Linked DNA regions of Homo sapiens: region 1 is linked to region 2. The links come from fine-mapping of genetic effects on gene expression. A gene starts in region 2. The other region holds a variant in brackets. All regions are shown on one strand. Distances are from middle to middle.

Region 1 (9,447 bases), 72 kb after region 2:
AATGGGCCAACAGCATGAAGTAACTGTTGTGAGGTGGGGTGGTAGTTAATTTAGAAGGACCATTTTATGTACGTTTGTAGGTTTCACATGTGAATTCTACTTTTCTTATTGGGGTAATGATGTAAATAAGTAAGGTAGTTTGTCAGAAATTAGACATCAAAAGGAAAAGTCAAGAAATTATTTCTGTGATTTGTAAATCTTGGTTGAGTGTGTAGTATTTATGTGCTGCTAAGAAAGTACTCATTGTCTAATCTTGTTAACATTTGTACAGCACTTGGCTATTTTACAAGGTGTATAATTTGTATAATCCCCCTTCATCCTAACTGTAACTATCTCTTAACATCCCCTCACTATAACCCACTGTAAATAACTGCTGTAATGAAGCAGGAGGAGGCATGTGATTCCAGCTAGTGTCCCAGGGTCAGGAAAGGCCCCACAGAGGCAGTCGCACCTGGGAGCCTTGGTAATTGTGTACATGTTGGTTGGAGCAGGAGGAGGGCATTCCAGCAAGTGGAGCCAGGGCCTAGAGTTTAAGATCAATACCCATGGTATCCTTGAGAGAGAGCTCATAGGCTTCTGTGATTACGATTGGGTAAAGTGAGACTGAAGAAGATGTCTGGCCCAAAAATTCAAGTGCTGGCCTGCTTGTACTGGGGATCCATAGAAGGTTAGTGAGGCAGACAGGAAGGAATGGAGAAGTATTTTACAAGAACACAGTACCAGGAATGCCAGGGGCACAGGCCTGTGTTCTGTGATGGCTGCTTGGTTCCACTTTCTTCTGTGGTCACAAAATTCACAGGAACTTTGGGCACTGTAGTCCTGGTTTTTGTTTGTTTTGTTTTTTAAAAAGGAGGTTGGACCAAGCCTCTTAGGAAGACAGCCCCAAGCAAGCATCTACAGAAGATCAGAAGCTCCAGTTTCCCTTCCATGCTGGTGACACCATTTATCTGCCAATGGTGCCTGCCTCTGCTCCCGCCCTTTGTCCTGGTAAACCCAACCCATCCTATCCCTTCTCTGAAGCCCTCACCTACCCCAGTAGGCAGATAGACAGTGCTGCTTGTGATTCTGATTGCCCTTTCCTACAGATTAATCACTTGTTGCATACTCATATAATTCACTCTTTACAGGCCTGTCTTCCCCATCAGAATGTCAGAGCAAAAACCATGTCTTACCATCTATCTCTGTATTCCTGTCTTCTTGCTCAGCAAGGAAAGGCTCTCTACAAACTTCTGAACAAATGAGTGAAGCATGAACGTAACAAAAGGGCCATAGAATCTGCTTGGCTTCCCCATTTGTCAGTCTTCTTCTGAGCTTAAAGGAAAGGCCTAGTCACAGGCTCTTGGTGCCATTGTCTCCTGATATTAGTGTCACTCAAAGGGATAGAGAACTCAAGGAAATATACTGCAAAGAAAGGAAAAACAATATTATAGAAGGCACTTTACCACAACTATTCTTAAAAGAAAAAGACTGAGTTATTCCAGATGCACACTTGGGAAATGGTTTTGCATACTAGAGCTTAGAACAGTGGGATTCTCTGTAGCCACCATAAATGGTAATCCTGTGAAATGTATCCTCCTTGGCAATGTAGCTATGAAATTGGATTATACAAACAAGACAGAATCAGAAGAGCATGTCCATGGTCAGTCTCAGCTGGAAACAAGTGGGCATAATGTATGTGAAAGTACTTTGTGAATAAGAAAGCTAAACTGAAGGAGGGGCCGCTTTTTTTTTGAGATGGAGTCTCACTCTGTCCCTCAGGTTGGAGTGCAGTGGTGTGATCTTGGCTCACTGCAACCTTTGCCTCCCAGATTCAAGCAATTCTCTTGCCTCAGCCTCCCAAGTAGCTGGGACTATAGGTGTCTGCCACCACGCCTGGCTAATTTTTGTATTTTTAGTAGAGACTGGGTTTCACCATATTGGCCAGGCTGGTCTCGAACTCCTAACCTTGTGATCTGCCTGCCTTGGCCTCCCAAAGTGCTGGGATTACAGGCATGAGCCACCTTGCCCAGCCAGGGGCACTTTTTAATGTCATTGATAATTAAAAGTTGGAGATACCATGCAAACTGTACACCTGACAAAGGGTTACTACCCAGAACATATAGCGAACTTAAACAACTCGACAGCAAAAAAAACAAGTAACCCAATTTTAAAATGGGCAAAATACCTTAATAGACATTTCGCAAAAGAAGACATTCAAATGGCCGAGTTATATGAAAAAATGCTCAACATCACTAATCTTCAGGGAAATGCAAATCACCACATGAGGTATCACCTCCAGTTAGGATGTCTATAATCAGGCTGGGTGCAGTGGCTCATGCCTATAATCCCAGCACTTTGGCAGGCCGAGGTGGGCAGATCACATGAGGCCGGGAGTTCAAGACCAGCCTGACCAACGTGGCAAAACCTCATCTCTACTGATTTTTGTATTTTTATGAGATATATATTTTTTGGCAGGGTGCGGTGTCTCACATCTGTAATCCCAGCACTTTGGGAGACCAAGGCAGGTGGATCACCTGAGGTCAGGAGTTCGAGACTAGCCTGGCCAACATGGTAAAACCGTCTCTACTAAAAATACAAAAATTAGCTGGGTGTGGTAGCGGGTTCCTGTAATCCCAGCTACTTGGGAGGCTCAGGCAGGAGAATTGCTTGAACCTGGGAGGCAGAGGTTGCAGTAAGCCAAGATCGCACCACTGCACTCCAGCCTGGGTGACAAAAGCAAGACTCTTGTCTTAAAAAAAAAAAAAAAAAAAAAAAGATTTTATTTTTATAAAATCTTATAAAAATAAAAAAATTAGCCTAGTGTGGTGGTGCACACCTATAATTCCAGCTACTCGGGAGGCTGAGGCACAAGAATCACTTGAACCCAGGAGGTGGAGGTTGCAGTGAGCCGAAATCATGGCCACTGCACTCCAGTCTGAGTGACTAAGACTCTTGTCTCAAAAAAAAAGAAAAGAAAAAATGTCTACAATTAAAAAGACGAAAAGAAGTGCTAGGGAGGATGTGGAGAAAAGGGAACACTTACACATTGTTGGTGGGATTGTAAACTAGTACAGCCACTATAGAAAACTGTATGGAGGTTCTTCAAAAAATTAAAAATAGAACTACCACATGATCCAGCAATCTCAGTACTGGATCCATATCCAAAGGAAATAAAATCATTATGTTGAAGAAATATCTGCACTCCCACGCTTACTGCATGACTATTTACAATGGCCAAGATGTGGAATCAGCTTAAGTATCCAACAGCGGATGAATGGATAAAGAAAATGTGGTATGTAACACAGTGGAATACATAAAACTGAATGAAATCCTGCACTTTGTGACAACATAGATGAACATGGAGGACATCATGTTACATGAAATAAGCCAGACACAGAAAGACAAATACGATCTCACTCATGTGGAATCCTTAAAAAAAAAAATTGATATCATAGAAACAGAGAGTAGAATAATGGCACCAAGACTCAGGAGGGGAAAAGTGAGAGATAGTTGGGAAAGACTGACCAACTGGTACAAAGTTACAGTTAAGTAGTAGGAACAAGTTCTGGTGTTCTATTGCACTGTAGCCATAGCTAACAATAAGGTATTATATATTATAAAATACCTAGAAGAAAGGGTTTTGAATGTCCTTATTAACAAAGAAATGATAAATGCATAAGGTGATGGTCACTCTATCTGATTTGATCATTATACAACGTGGATATATTGAAATATCAAATTATGCCTCATAAATATGGACATGGACAATTACAATGTATCAGAAATAAAAAGAGACACCAAAGTAAAACAAGATTAGAAAAATGGACTGTGTTTAATAAATGCATTCCTAGAACTGTGTTTCTAGAAGGCTTTGAGTGGCTAGCCCAGGTGGAACCATATGGTAATCCT[C/CT]TTTTGCTGTGGGCTTCGGCAGTGACAGTCCCCATGCTTCTCCCTGTGACTATCCCGCTTCCCCAGGGGAGGTTTCGGGCCCAGGACGTGAATCAGAGAGGGGCTAAATGCAGGAGTGAGACCCTCTGTGCCAAAGCCACACATGCACGTGTTTGCTATGTGCCACTCGTGGCAGGACAGGGGCCCTGAGCCGCATCACAAGCCCAGATCTCCAGGAATAGGACCCAGGTGTGTTCAAGTGGACAGTAGAGTTCAGCCGTCACCTGTGAGCTCCTACTGTATGTTAGACCATTTGTATACTAAGAGCACTAAGGTCATGCCATCTGCCAGCTGTCATATAACCTGTCTGAGTTTCAGTATTTCCATCATGAATTCATAAGGCTACTTGAAAGATGGTAGAGAAATTACGTGAAGGGTGTGGCCAGTATGCTTAATGCTCAGGCCACGTGGCTGTTGGCATCTAACAGTGTATGGCACCCATCACTTCAATGAGACTTGCACAGGAACTGACAGATCACCTCTTTGGTGAATCCACAAATATAGTCACAAAATATTTGTGTATTCTTTCTCCTGTTTCAGGCCGTCACTATGGGGCTGTCAGTTGTGAAGGTTGCAAAGGTTTCTTCAAAAGGAGTGTGAGGAAAAATTTGACCTACAGCTGCCGGAGCAACCAAGACTGCATCATCAATAAACATCACCGGAACCGCTGTCAGTTTTGCCGGCTGAAAAAATGCTTAGAGATGGGCATGAAAATGGAATGTGAGTAACAATATTTAAAAACCACATGAGTTAATGTGGAGGGAGACAGTAAATGAGTCCATTAAATAAGGTTTCTATACCTGGCCTTAAAATACTTTAAGAAAAAAATATGCACTCAGGCTTCATTTTGGTTTACCTCATGGGTCAGCCAGGTGATTGAGAGCCAACGCTGCAGGGGTTGGTCTCTTCCTGCTGTGTGTGTGGAAAGCCTTATTACAGATGCATCAGGAGGCAGCTTAGTGGAGTGGGTTGAACACAGGCTTTGGAGGAAAGCTGATACCAAATCTACCTCCAGGTGTGCCACTAAGAGAGAGCTATGATGCCTGAGGATACACGTAGCCTCTCAGCCACAGGGTCCTCATCTGTGATCTACTTAATCACCTTACTTATATATTGCTCCTGAGGATTACATGAGCCTACTCCCTGTCTTCTTAGCCCCTCTACTTTCTTTTGGGATAAGGTCCTTTGCCAAGCCTCTGTGTAGCTGGGATTCTAAAGAGAAAGCTATTGCTCCTGGATGTGTGGGGCAGCCAGGGAAGGTCTCAGGCCCCTCCTTTCCACTCCCATAGACAGAATTTTGGGGGTTTTCAGGGACCAGTCAGCATGGAGGTCACTTCCCTAGCTAGTGGTGAAAACATGAAGACCAGGACTCAAGATGGGCAGCACAAAGAAATCCAAGGAGAGTGGAGTTAGGCTTAAGCCACAGTAGGAAAATGGAGCTTAGCAGAGCAAGGCATGCAACTTGCATGCAACTTGCATGGCAAGGCTGGTGGCCGAGGACCCAGGACTGCAGGCTTCCGCTGAGTATGCTGCATGGTTCTGTCATCTTTTGCATAGTTTTCTAGGAACTCTGAAAACCAATATATTTCAGTATTGCTGTTGACGTTTCTGGGAACAGGAATCCACAAAATTCACTGGAGAATAAATGGAAATGTATTTTTTGAGAAATTAGAAATATCAACCTAATTTCTGCCTGGTGTGATGTTTTTATTTTATCTAATGATACTGCTCTTTGCCCAAAGTGAATAAATAAATCACTGACTTGGTGTGGGACTGGCCCACATTGCCAAGCTGTCCTTTTTCTCAATGATGAATATTTTTACTCAGAGCAATGACTGAAATCAGTTTTCTTGTGAACACAGCTGTAGCTGCAAACACAATATTCAACTGGATAGCAGTTTGATTAGTAGCATATCTGAATATTAGTCCCTGACCTTCATCAGTTTTGTCTTTAAAAAGCTTTCATTTTCTTCAGTTGCTTCTAACATGCATATCTGCTCTTACATTAGACTGCTAAAAGGAGAGTTTGCTAGCATAATATAAAATTGACACCCATTAAACAGTTTGCAGAAGCTATTCAGACTTGAGTTGGAAATTAGAAGGGTTCCTCTACAAATTGTGGCATAGGAAATGCATTCTATTAAGGGCCCACTTGAAGGTGGGCATTTCTTTTTTCTTTTTCTTTCTTTTTTTTTTTTTTTTTTTTTTGAGGCAGAGTCTTGCTCTGTTGCCCAGGTTGGAGTGCAGTGGTGCCGCGTCTTGGCTCACTGCAGCCTCCGCCTCCCAGGTTCAAGCAATTCTCCCTGCCTCAGCCTCCCAAGTAGCTGGGATTACAGGTGCCTGCCACCACACCTGGCTAATTTTTGTGTTTTTAATAGAGGCCGGGTTTTGCCATGTTGGGCAAGTGATCCACCCATCTCGGCTTCCCAAAGTGCTGGGATTACAGACGTGAGCCACCACCCCCGGCCCAAAGATGGGCATTTTTTTATCCTTGAAAGAGTCTATTTTGTTAGCAGCATGAAGTAAAAACCAGCTGGGCACGGTGGCTTATGCCTGTAATTCCAGCACTTTGGCAGGCTGGGGCGAGTGGTTTGCTTGAGCCCAGGATGAGTCCAGACTGGGCAACATAATGAGGCTTCATCTCTACAAAAAATAATAAAATAATAACATAAAATAATAGCATAAAATTAATAAAATGGCCCAGAAGGCTCATGGGTGCTTCCATAGGCCACATAGGTGCTGTGCTGCAGTTTTTTTTAGCAGGGAATACCACCCATCGTGAGGTCTTTTTTATGCCTCTAGATTTGACATGGCATGGTTTGGCTTTATTCCTTCTCTCTGGCCGAAAAGTCCACTGTGAAAGCTGAGCTAGATGAACCTAGCACCAGAGTCATCCTCCCTGCAGTAATGGATTTGGGGTTTTCCCTTGTGGTTTTTATTGATTGGAATTGTTTCTCTAAACACAAATATTTATGTTGTGATTTAAGCTGTGCAGAGTGAACGGAAGCCCTTCGATGTGCAACGGGAGAAACCAAGCAATTGTGCTGCTTCAACTGAGAAAATCTATATCCGGAAAGACCTGAGAAGTCCCCTGATAGCTACTCCCACGTTTGTGGCAGACAAAGATGGAGCAAGGTCAGTCCCTTGTTCTCACTGCAATCAGCCTTTGCAGCTGATGGAGGAGGCACAGACGTGTCCCACAGCAGGCACTGTTGTGGCTTCCCACCCATCTGCCATAGCCTCCAGCGTTGTGTTGCCTAATTCTGCCCCTTCTGGAGCTGCTCAGTCACACCTCTGGACAGGCCTGAGGATGCCTGATTTATGAAGGGGTCAGAAATTCTCCTAGCCTTGAATTCAGATTATGTCCTGCAATTTAGGCATCATTCATACGGAAGACAATTATTTTATGATTCAAGATTGGGGCATTTCTGCAGTACACACAAAAGGCCCAAGGTGAGATAAGGTCTCAGTGCTACAGTTAATTTGTATATTCTTTTTAATATAATCTATTGAACTTACTTTAAAAGGAACGGAAAGAGGGGAAAACAAGCAATCCAAAATGTATCAGAGAGAGAGCTGGAGTTGAGGATGCCTTGCTGATTTTCTGAAAATCAAGTTAACTTTTCTAGGCAGAATGGCCACAGTCTGCAGTCATCCTGGAAAGCCCTGGGGGATGCATCTGCATTTCATCCTGTCTCAAGCTGTAAACCTGACTTTATGTATATCTCATTGCAGAGAGACAGGGGTGGGGGTTCTGCTTAGTCACTAAGCGGCTGAGTCTACTTAGAGCTTTTCTACTATTCAGACAGCTTCACAAATGTGGAAGGACAGGTAAATGCAGCATGATCATACTGTGCATAAAATGTTGGAAGCTACTCTGAGTTTCTTTATGTCTTAAATAGACAAACAGGTCTTCTTGATCCAGGGATGCTTGTGAACATCCAGCAGCCTTTGATACGTGAGGATGGTACAGTTCTCCTGGCCACGGATTCTAAGGTGACGTTCTCTACTCATGCTCTCTCTCATCCTTTATGTTGACATTGCAGGCTGCTTCTCTAACTGTGTGCACCACTTTCTTCCTGGCCTTCAGAGACCACATCAAAAGCATGACCTATGTCTCGGTCTCCTTATTGTTGTGATAGCTATCTTGTGATTTGTTTTAGAGATGCTGATGGCTTCTCAGATCAGAGCTGGCTGGTCATAATCACTGTAACATGTCAGTCTAGATGTCAATTTGGTGGACATTCAGTGGTTCTCTTTTCTGTTATAGTTTTCTTTTTCTCTTATACACATTGGCAAACTACTAGCCAAGGAAAGAAATACTTATCAGATGGCCTTTTTGCAAAAGCCCCGGGTTCCTTTTTATTAGATGATCTTCAGGAGGAAGCTCAGCCAGGAATCTATCAGTTCCAAAACTTTGCTAGAGCAGATCAGTCATAGGGATTTAACTTGTGGACAGAGATGTTCGTCAGTCCAAAAGGGGGAGACTTGCTGGCTCCTGTGAAGATAACCAAGGAGGGGGATTTTTTCCAGGCCAGGGAACTCACTGTTTGTCTCATCCTGGTGCTCCTGATGTAAACCAAGTAATGAGGAAGTAGTAGCAGCAAGCCACAACTCTAAGAGGGTGACTTGGTAATTGAGAACACTGGCATTGCTGCAACCATTAGAACCAGAGCAAGGCCTGCAGGCTTCCTCCTCATCTGTTCACAGTCTCATTCATGGGTGTACTCAGGGCATTACAGGGCATCCTCTTTTGGGAAAGAGAAGACAAAATTTAGAGCCCTTGCCTGTCATGGAGAGCTGCCCTGCATGCCTTGGTCCTCAGGCTGGGCCTTGCACCTTCTGTCTTTGGGCAGGGGCCACATGCATGATGGGAGCTGATGGATCACGCATCGTGGGCTTAGCTTATCAGCAGCACACATTCTAGAACAGTGGCTCTGACTGCATGGTCAAATGCAGAGAAAGCGTAAGCCTGAAAGTAAGGCCCAGATAACCTTAAAAACAGATTACCAAGGGATTCACAGCAACCATTCTATTGGGCCATCCACACACAGACTGGGAATGAGAACCAAGACTCCAGAACTGGCTAGAACTGGGTTCAGAGTCTGACAGTGCTCTTCGTAGCCACATGCTTCTTTCCTGCACTTGTAAATTTCTTGGTACACAGTGAGCATTCAATAAATGTTAATGGTTAGGAATTAGTTATTGTCACTTTGGAGGAGAATGACCACAAAGCTGTATGGTATTTCAGGAATCAAGAGAAAGAGCTTCAGAGGCAGACTGTGTCCTACCCCATTCCTTCCTGTGTACAATGGAAACAACAATACCCCCCACAGAAGTTTGATACGAATAATAAAACATATGCAAAGCACCCACAGGAAGCTACTTTCAGAAACTGTTTTCCAATTTTACTTTGAAGTAATTATACATTTAAAATAATTTACTATGAAGGAAGTACAGTGCTATTACAGAGCTCCCACATAGCCTTCGCCCAGGTCCTCCCAGTGGTTATGTCATACA
Region 2 (9,447 bases):
GTCAAAGGGATTAGATCAGAGCTCCAGTCTCACTTACTGGGCCTATAACATTGTGCAGGGCACTTATCTCACCTCAGGAAAATGGAAGTAACTGCTTCATTTTACAGAGGTATTAAATGAAAGAAATGAGAAAACTATAAACCAACATTGAAGCCTGAATTATTGCTTAGTATTTAAAGTCTAGTACAATTGCAATGTTTTTAATAAAAAAACTCATTGATAGGTGTATTTTTACAGTGTATCTAAAAGCAGCATTTAACATTAAAAACTTAGTATTTAAAAGAGTACACAACCAGGCAGGGTGTGGTGGCTCACGCCTGTAATCCTAACACTTTGGGAGGCCAAGATGGGAGGATCACTTGAGGCCAGGAGTTCGAGACCAGCCTGGTCAACACAGCGAGACCCCAACTTTTTTTTTTTTTGAGACAGTTTCGCTCATCGCCCAGGCTGGAGTGCAATGGTGTGATCTCGGCTCACTGCAACCTCTGCCTCCCGAGTTCAAATGATTCTCCTGTCGCAGCCTCATGAAGTAGCTGGAATTAGATGCCCGCCACCCCGCCTAGCTAATTTTTTTGTATTTTTAGTAGAGATGGGGTTTTACCATGTTAGTCAGGCTGGTCTTGAACTCCTGACCTCAGGTGATCCACCCACCTCACCTTCCCAAAATGCTGGGATTACAGGCATGAGCCACCATGCCCGGCCAATGCCATCTATTAAAAAAACAAAGAAAAAGAGTACACAACCACAAAGCACTGGGCCAAATGCATTGTTTCCATGTTTGCAAGGATTTACCATAGAAATATTAGGTTGATGCAAAAATTAAATTTCCAGACTGCGAATTTTAAATCATTGTAACTACGCTAAAACATATTCTATTAATCAAAACAGGAACCATTACAATCAACACATTTTTGCCAATGAGAAATGTTTGTTTATTCCTGTAGCATAAAAATCCGTGCTTCAGGATTTGACGAACTCTTGGAAAGCATTTTCTGCACCATGCTGAAGTGTTTTCCCTGCAAAAAGTTGTCAAGATGCTAGCAGAAGTGGTAGTCAGTTGGCGAAAGGTCAGGTGAATATGGTGGATGAGGCAAAACTTTGTAGCCCAATTCCTTCAACTTTTGAAGCACTGGTTGTGCGACACGCAGTCAGGTGTTGTCGTGGAGAAGAATTGGGCCCTTTCTGTTGACCAATGCAGGCAGCAGGTATTGCAGTTTTCGGTGCATCTTACCAATTTGCTGAGCATACTTCTCAGATGTAATGGTTTCACCAGGATTCAGAAAACTGTAGTGGATCAGATGGGCAGCAGACCACCGAACAGTGACCATGACCTTTTTTTTGGTGCAAGTTTGGCTTTGGGAACTGCTTTGGAGCTGCCTCTTGGTCCAACCACTGAGCTGGTTGTTGTATAAAATTCACTTTTCATTACATGTCACAATCCGATTGAGAAATGGTTTGTTGTTGCGTAGCATAAAAGAAGACTACACTTCAAAACGATAGTTTTGATTTCCGCTCAGCTCATGAGGCACCCACTTATCAAGCTTTTTCACCTTTCCAATTTGCTTCGAATGCTGAACGACCCTAATGACCGTAGAATAGTCAACGCTGAGTTCTTCTGTAATTTTTCATGTAGTTCAATGATTGCTCTCAATTGGTCGTTGTCAACTTCCCATGGCCCATATCACGTTCCTCATCTTCAAGGCTCTCTTCCTTGCAAAACTTCTTAAGCCACCACTGCACTGTATGTTTGTTAGCAGTTCCTGGGCCAAATGTGTTACTGATGTTTTGAGTTGTCTTCGCTGCTTTATGAACCATTTTGAACTCGAATAAGAAAACTGCTCCAAATTTGCTTTTTATCTAACATCATTAGACAAAAAGCATATTCTAAAATAAACAGCAATAAGTCATTAGCAAAAAAATAAAGTGAGAAATGTGCATTAAAATGATCCACATTTATTTAAGAATGTATTCCAATATCAAACAGCAAATTTCAAAAATGCAAAAACGCAATTGCTTTTGCCTCTCAGGTACATCACTTGACCTTTCTAGTTCTCACCCACTTCACCCCTAAAATCGGAAAATCTTTCTGCAAGAAAAAAATTTGACCACATTCCCTTAAGGCCTCTTCCAATTTCAAGAGCTGTGCTTTACCATGACAAAACGAACCTAGCTCTTTTCCCAATTTTGCAACGTCAGAAAAAGGAGGAAGGGGAAATAGCTGTGTTTAAAACATTTTTTACCAAATAGAAATATTATAAGATTATGGAAAAAAAAATACTAAATGTTGGAGTCATCCTGATAAAAACCCAAATGGATACTGTGTGGGAAAAAAAGTTAACCCATCCATTCTGGAGTCAATATTTATTCTTAATAAGCAAGAAAACTGAAGAAAAAAAATCAGTATAAGATCTACAGCCTGTAGCCTAAACACTTCAGGGCATTTAGGATAAATAAGCGCCTGCACCTTCCCAGGCAAGTCAAAACCACGACATAAAACAGAGAAATATGTAAGGAAAACCTACAGCCCAAGAGTTTAAGAGCAAGACAGGCCAATTTCTTCAAATAAATTTAAGCAATGCTGCTAAAAGCTGCTTTACACATCCCTATTACCATGTACTACTTCCAAATTTCGAGGAGGAGGGGCATGGAATTACACAAGATCTGGATCGTATGTTTACTAAGAAACCAAAAATTATAGGTTCTGGGGCGTTTCAACATTTCACCTGAGATGGCCAGAACGGGCGCATCTTTAGACCTTTAAAACCTAAATTAAAAACTATCAGTACCGAGGAAGGGCCGAAGAGCTCAATACCCACCCAATACAACCCCCACTTCCGACCTACAGACGCTCTGCTGAGCGGCTGGGAGAATCCGTCGCGCCAGTCAGGGCCCGGCTTCTTCCAACAACAGACACTTTGCGAGCCTTCCAGAAGCCTTGGCTAAGCGAGAAGGCAGGGTGGAGGCCGCCACTGCGAGGACGGTCCCCACCCAGCTGCGAGGAGCTCGCGGTTCCCCAGAGGGGCGGGCCTGCGTCCGGGTAACCGTGCGCGACGTCCACGAGTTTTTAGGACGACCAGCCCTTCAGCCTCTAGGCCCCGACGCCTGCGCCATTTAAGCCACATATCCGCCCGCCCGGCCGCGGCCAAGGCCGGCGGCAGCTACGTAGCCGCCGCCGCCCGGGGCCCCACAGCCCACGGGCCGGATGGACCGAGCGCCGGCTGCGGCGTTCCGGTGCGCGCGCGCGCCTCAGCCAATCGCGTTCTCGCCCGCCCCCCGCCGCGGCGGCGAGGCTGGCGCTGGGAAGAGGAAGAAGAACATTCGCCCTCCTCCTACCAGCGCGCGGGCGGCGGCGGCGGCGGCACCGGGGTCACGAACTCTGACCTTTCACTGACAAAAACAATAACAAACCCCCCCTTCTCCGCGACCCCGGCGGCGCCCCCGGGCCCGTCCCCGCCACCCCGCTCCCACCTCGGCGTCTCGTCTCTCGCCCGCTGCCCCGCGAGCCCGCGGCCCCCGGGCTCCCGCCATCCGCCGACACCGGGAGCCCGGGCTCCCCGCGCCCTGCCCTCCGCGCCGGGGGCCGCCCGCCGCAGACACGGGACCCGCTTCGAGGCCGCTTTGGCGCCAAATCCTGAGGTAAAATTGAAAGAGGGTCGGGCGGGCTCGGGCCGGCGGCGGAGGGGGCGGGCCTGGCGCGCGGACATGGAGGCGCCGCGGCGGCGGCTGAACCCGACCCTTTTACCTTTGCCACGGGGTGGCGGCGGCGGCGCCCGGCGCTTTGCATAGTGGGCCGGGCCGCTCCCCTCCCCTCCCCGCCCGCGGCCGGGCGAAGCGAGCGGGTTCCCCCTGACCGGCCCGGCCGGCGCAAGGGTGGGGGTGGAGGGGGAATGGCCGCGGCCCCGCCTTATAGTTGGCCCTCCGCCAGCGCCGCCATTTTGTTCTCGACGGAGATGGCTCCGGCTGGGCGGGCTCCCTTCCTCCTTATCCTCCTCCTCCTCCCGCCTGCAGTCCCTTCTTCCTTCTCTGCCGGGATTTTCACCCCTCCGCTTCTAGTCCGCCTTTGGCGGCCGTCGCAGCCCAACCGCCGTTTTTTCTGAAGGGGAGGGTAAAAGAAAAGGAGGAAGGCGGGTGCGAGGCGCGACCTCGTGAGCGACGGATGGGCTGGCTAATTGGCGCCCAGATAGGAGGGCCGGGGCCTGTGGCACCGCCCCCCTAAGCTTTGCTGATTGGCTGAGGCGGAAGAGGGTGGTCCTTATGGGGCGCGGGAGCCCTGGCGGGGCGGGAGTAGAGGCCGGGGCGAAGAGTGGGGCCGGGTCGGCGGGGGCGGGGCCGGGGGCGGGGCGCGAGGGGCGCGGCCGGGTGGAGAGGCCGGCGCCTGGTCTTGGGTCAGCAGGTGGGCTGCTTCCCTCCGCCTGGAACGCGTCTCGAATGAGTACTGAGGAACAATAGTAATAAAGGTGATGAAGCATTTCGAGTCCACGATGCGCTCTCGTGGGAAGAGGTTTTCGGAACCAGGACACTTTTCAGGGCTCCTGCTCGTTATTTCGCAGCGGCCTTGGCGAATCCCCTAATGAGGCTCAATTTTATCGACTGTAAATGGGGGGCATGCGCATTCTTGCCAGGCCGGACCTCCCTTCTGAGCATTGTTTGTGGGGCTCTACTCAGAAAATGGAGGCAACGCTACTTTGCGAGCTTCAGAGTCACTTGAAAATGGTGTTATTGTTAAAAATGGGATTACAGCCACCAGGAGAGGCAAGCGTTAAGGGTATTTGGGGTTTGAGAGAGCACAATTCGGGAGTGATTCTCTTCTCATTCGTTCGCTGAATACATGTTGACTTAGTTTTTTAGGCACTGGGGACACATCTGGAGAACCAGCTGTACAAGACCCCTGCCCTCACTAGAGTTGGGGGCTGGGGGGTGAATAGACAAATAATTCCAGAGAGTCATAAGTTCTGTGAAAGAAAAGAAGCCAAATGACCTGCTGAAGAAGACCTGAGGCGTTAATTTAGATGGAATGGTCAGGGTGGCCTCTCTGAGTAAGTGATGTTTGAACAGAGGAACCCAAGGGAGGAATGGCATTCCAGACAGGACATCCCGTGTAACGGCCCTGGAGGAAGAGCATTTGATGTGATCGAGAACTGGCTGCTTGTGGCTGGAGAGTTGGTTGGAACTAGTAATTGTCCATTATCCCACTTTGTTTCCAAGCCAAAGGCTGTGAAATATAGCAACGGTAGTGAGGAACAAATCTTCAATGTAATAAGAAAGTCGAGGAAAATACAGCCTTCATATGAATTACTGATGAATACATGACTTGGGAGGAGGGCCTCAGAAACTCACTTTACTTCCAGATTCAAATCCTTCGTCAGCCTCTTATATACATTTTCAGTTCATCAAGTATTTCCTGAGTGCTACGAATACTCCAGGCACTATGTGCTAGGCTGGGAATACAAAAAAGTAAGACACTGGTCCTCAAACATGTGAATATGATTTATTTATTTATTTATTTATTTTTTGAGACCAAGGTCTCACTCTGTCGCCCAGGCTGGAGTTGAATATAATTCTCTGTGTGTGAGTTCTCTCTTTCTCTCTCTCGAGATAGAGATATTTATACACATACATACACAGACATAAAATGTTTTAGTGTTGTGGTTAGCAACTCCCCAACTTTTACTAGCAGTGTGATTTTGTGTAAGCTACCTTTCCTAGCCTCACTGTCCTCATCTGGACAATAATAGAGCCTTCCTTCCTGAACTGAAGATTAGATGAGTTAATGTAAATAATAGAGCTTAGAAAAGTGCCTGACATGTAGCAAATACTGTGTAAATAGAGTTATTGTTGTCATTATGAACTACTGGTATAGACATTGGACTAATTAAGTGATATAAATAATGAAATTTTTATGCAGTGTGGTGTAGGGGCAAAAACAATAGATTCGAACACCGAGATTCTAGTTTTGGCTCTGTGCTTGCAGCTAGTTACATGGCATCCAGGACAAAAGTTTGGAAAACAAAATAATGGAACTAAATAGTACTAACCAAAGTATAGGGTGCTTTATGATTTACAGAACTCTCTTACAGGCAGTATGTTGTTCAGGCGCCACTAGAACCCACGTAATGGCAGAGGCTTCCTGTTCCATGTTTAAAAACCTTTCCAAGGCTTTTCATTATTTTCTTATCTGTGGTACCCCTAGCTTCCTGTGCTCTAGACACACTGGCCTACCTTCAACTTCCTTGACCAGTGTAGCTTACAGTGTAAGCTTACCCCCCACCCCCACCCTACCTCAGATATTGGCTCAAGCATCACTTCTTCAGGGAAGTCCTAATTCCCATTGCCAGTCTAAATCAGATTCTTTTTATTCTTTTCTTTATAATCTTTATCTCACTTTATAATTACACACTCTATTATGTGATTATTTGATTAATGTCTGTCCTTACCACACTGTAAGCTGTGAGAGCAGGAATACATTTTGTTTACCATTACTTATCCAGCACTTAGAAGAGTGCCTGGCACTATTTGTTGAATGAATTGTTGATAATTTATGATGTCACTGATAACTAAGTTGCTGTACATTGATGGATACCTTTTGTGTGAGCCTCTTTGGCAATTCAGATAGCACTGCCAGCAATAATAAGCCTGTTACGGTATTTGGTTGAATTTAGCAAGTGATTTCTGACAGATATGCCACTTTCTGGAGACATAAATATGGATAAAATGACCCATTTCAATAGTTTTTCCCACTCATTTTTTTATGATTGAATTACAAGTTTAAGTGCATGAAAGTTAATAAGTTCATATGTGAAGAAATAAATAGCCCAAACATAACTTATGTTATTTACTTTAGCTGAAGAAACGAAGCACTAAGCTACCATGATTTTCTTGAAATCAAATATTCTGATTTTTGTCTCACCATCACAGGGGATTGGAGAGAAGGAACAAGCCTCCAGTGGGTTCACAGGGAATTGGGAGTTGAAAGTCTCTGTAGCCATTAATTCGGGATATTTATCTTTCTAAAGATAAATTGATTCATTTAATGAAATTATTGAAAATCACCTTTTAATTGCTTTACCAAGGTTAAAAGCAAATTTTGTTAAGTATACATCAAGTTTCTACTCGAAAGTGTGGTAAATAAAACATTTGTATTAACTTATTTTATATTGTAAAACTTTTAAAATAAGATATTGTTATGGTATTTTAAAAATAATAATAGTTTAACTGTTTATTTTTGGGTTTTTTTTTCTGTCTTGCTCAAAGATTTTTGGTATCACTTGTTCAATTCCTTAAGCTAATTACTCAGGGTAACCAAAGAACTGCTAGTTTAGTAAAACAGCTATATGTTGTCTTACATCGTTAAGTTATTTATTGCTTTCAGTAGTTGTATTCACAGTGACTTTTAAGTTTTGTTTCGTGATCATTCTTTTATAGAAAATCCCTGTGCGTAACAACCTCCTCACTTTATGAGGATGGCTGGAAGTTTTTTTTGTGTGTTTTTTTTTGTTTTTGGGAGTCTCGCTCTGTCACCCAGGCTGGAGTGCAGTGGTGCGATCTCGGCTCACTGCAAGCTCTGCCTCCTGGGTTCACGCCATTCTTCTGCCTCCGCCTCCCCAGTGGCTGGGACTACAGGTGCCCGCCACCACGCCTGGCTAATTTTTGGATTTTTAGTAGAGACGGTGTTTCACCATGTTAGCCAGGATGGTCTCAAACTCCTGACCTCGTGATCCGCCTGCCTCGGCCTCCCAAAGTGCTGGGATTACAGGTGTGAGCCACTGCGCCCAGCAACTGGGAAGTTTTTAGCATCTGTCTCCAAGGAGTAACATGGCAAGGGCAGTGCAGTGACAGAGCTTGGGCTATGAAGGCAGAAAGGCCTGGCTTCAGAACCTGGAGTTGGTAGCCTCTCTGAGGCTTATAATTCCCCATTTGTCAAACAGGGAGGTGGGAGCCAGCATTGAGATTGGGGCCAGGGATAGCGGATACTTGTTGTCTGAATGACTTTGAGAACAAGGGAGGTGAGTCTTTGTGGAGCAGCCCTGTCTTCAGCCGTGGCACTGAGCCACTGGTCTGTGTCTAGCTGCCTGAGTGTCTCCACATATCGAGGGCCCTCCGTTGGGATTTTTATTGTTGAGTTCTCTTACCTATAAGCCATACGCTCCTTTAGTCCCAAACCATCTCCTGTACAAGTATCATCTTAAAAAATACCACACGGGGGGAGTCCGTGAAGGAATCTTAGAATCTCAGAATTGGAAGTGGTCTAGACCCCAAGTCCAGCCTTGATGTAAGGATCCCCTGCTAGATTTTCGTTTACCTCTTTTTACTTTATTGCTAATTATGAGGGCCTTAAATGATGCCTTTTTTCTTCCCTGTGTGATCATCATCTTTAACTTAATGGATACATTTGTGCTCCTGTTACACATTGTAAAAGATATGTTCTTCCTTATTCGTTGGAGGTTTGCTTGCCTTCAACTTAATATGCCAGAGGCTGAGATTCTCTGTCATTCTCTCCCATCCTGCCACTCTTTCCCCATATCCCACTATTGCTACCCGAGGTAGCAGTCCTACTCCCCTTGCTCACTTCAGGTCCTGAGTGCTAGAGAGTAAAGCAGCAGGAGCTCTATACCAAAAGGAAGAACTGCCCAAGAACAACAGCTCAACTAGCACAGCTCAACAATGATGAGGAGTGGGAATGACTAGAGGGATGAAAGCCAGATCAGGGCATTGGCGTAGGCATTTGTTAAAGGTACAATAAATGCAGATGCAGACCCCTGGTACCTGGAAGTCTTAGAATAGAAGGATGGGAGGTGAATTGTTAAGGACAGAAAGGGAATAGGCTAGCTCAGACACTTAACTGTTTTTTCTGTGTTACCCTTGGACTCCAGTTGGCCTGTAATGATGAAAGTCAGCCTCAGAGGCAAGTGTGATTTTTTAGGGGCAATAAAAAGTACCTCCTTCACTGTAATAAGAGGCCTGAAGTCCTTTAATAGGAGGTGAAACTTTCTATTCCATAATTATTAACAGTTACCTCAAAGATTCTAATCCCTGAAATGTTAACATGTAGATGGAGAGGAATTTCATTCCAAGTGCCCAAGTGTAAAAGAATATTTCCCCCCTGTTTGCGTTAGTGAGAGGTGTGAGAAAAGGTCTTGGGGCCTGGAAAATGGGGTGACTGCTGCTGAAAAGTGAAGAGAAATGAGAGGCTGGTAGGGCTAGACTCAAGCCTGAAGGCTTCCTGGTTTTACAGGGAGCTGCTTTATTTACCTTTGTTGTTCATATGTTGATAAAAGCTATGCAGGGGAAAAAGTTTCCTACCTGACTGCCCACCCATGTTCCTTAAAAAGAAAGATTCACGTATGGCCAGGCGTGGTGGCTCACCCCTGTAATCCCAGCACTTTGGGAGGCCAAGGCAGGCGGATCATGAGGTCAGGAGTTCAAGACCAGCCTGGCCAACATAGTGAA

Direction of the effects. Alleles are on the strand shown, and positions count from the first base shown. SD is a standard deviation of normalised expression in the study named.
For the expression in non-classical monocytes of the gene that starts at base 3,313 in region 2, CT is the high allele of the variant in region 1 and C is the other (large effect, 1.3 SD a copy in Schmiedel 2018).

The links. PIP is the estimated chance that this variant, and not a neighbour inherited with it, causes the effect. A credible set is the group of variants that fine-mapping cannot tell apart.
Region 1: its variant is the best candidate, but not a certain one, in a credible set for the expression of NR2C2 in non-classical monocytes (Schmiedel 2018, PIP 0.58).

The regions. Positions count from the first base shown.
Region 1 is chr3:15,016,286-15,025,732 of GRCh38, forward strand. NR2C2 (nuclear receptor subfamily 2 group C member 2) reads left to right here. Exons shown (of 14, transcript NM_001291694.2): 5 at 4,468-4,647; 6 at 6,915-7,062; 7 at 7,830-7,923. Among named protein-coding and RNA genes, the nearest start is that of MRPS25, 44 kb to the right of the region's middle. RefSeq lists an enhancer at 8,743-9,242. The variant C/CT (reference allele first, on the strand shown) is at 3,889.
Region 2 is chr3:14,944,271-14,953,717 of GRCh38, forward strand. NR2C2 (nuclear receptor subfamily 2 group C member 2) reads left to right here and starts at 3,313. Exons shown (of 14, transcript NM_001291694.2): 1 at 3,313-3,636. It overlaps FGD5-AS1 (FGD5 antisense RNA 1), which reads right to left and starts at 4,171. Exons shown (of 2, transcript NR_046251.1): 1 at 3,743-4,171; 2 at 1-1,884. RefSeq lists enhancers at 2,464-3,153, 3,842-4,529, 3,976-4,175, 4,530-5,217 and silencers at 2,936-3,365, 3,416-3,485, 3,506-3,925, 4,316-4,375.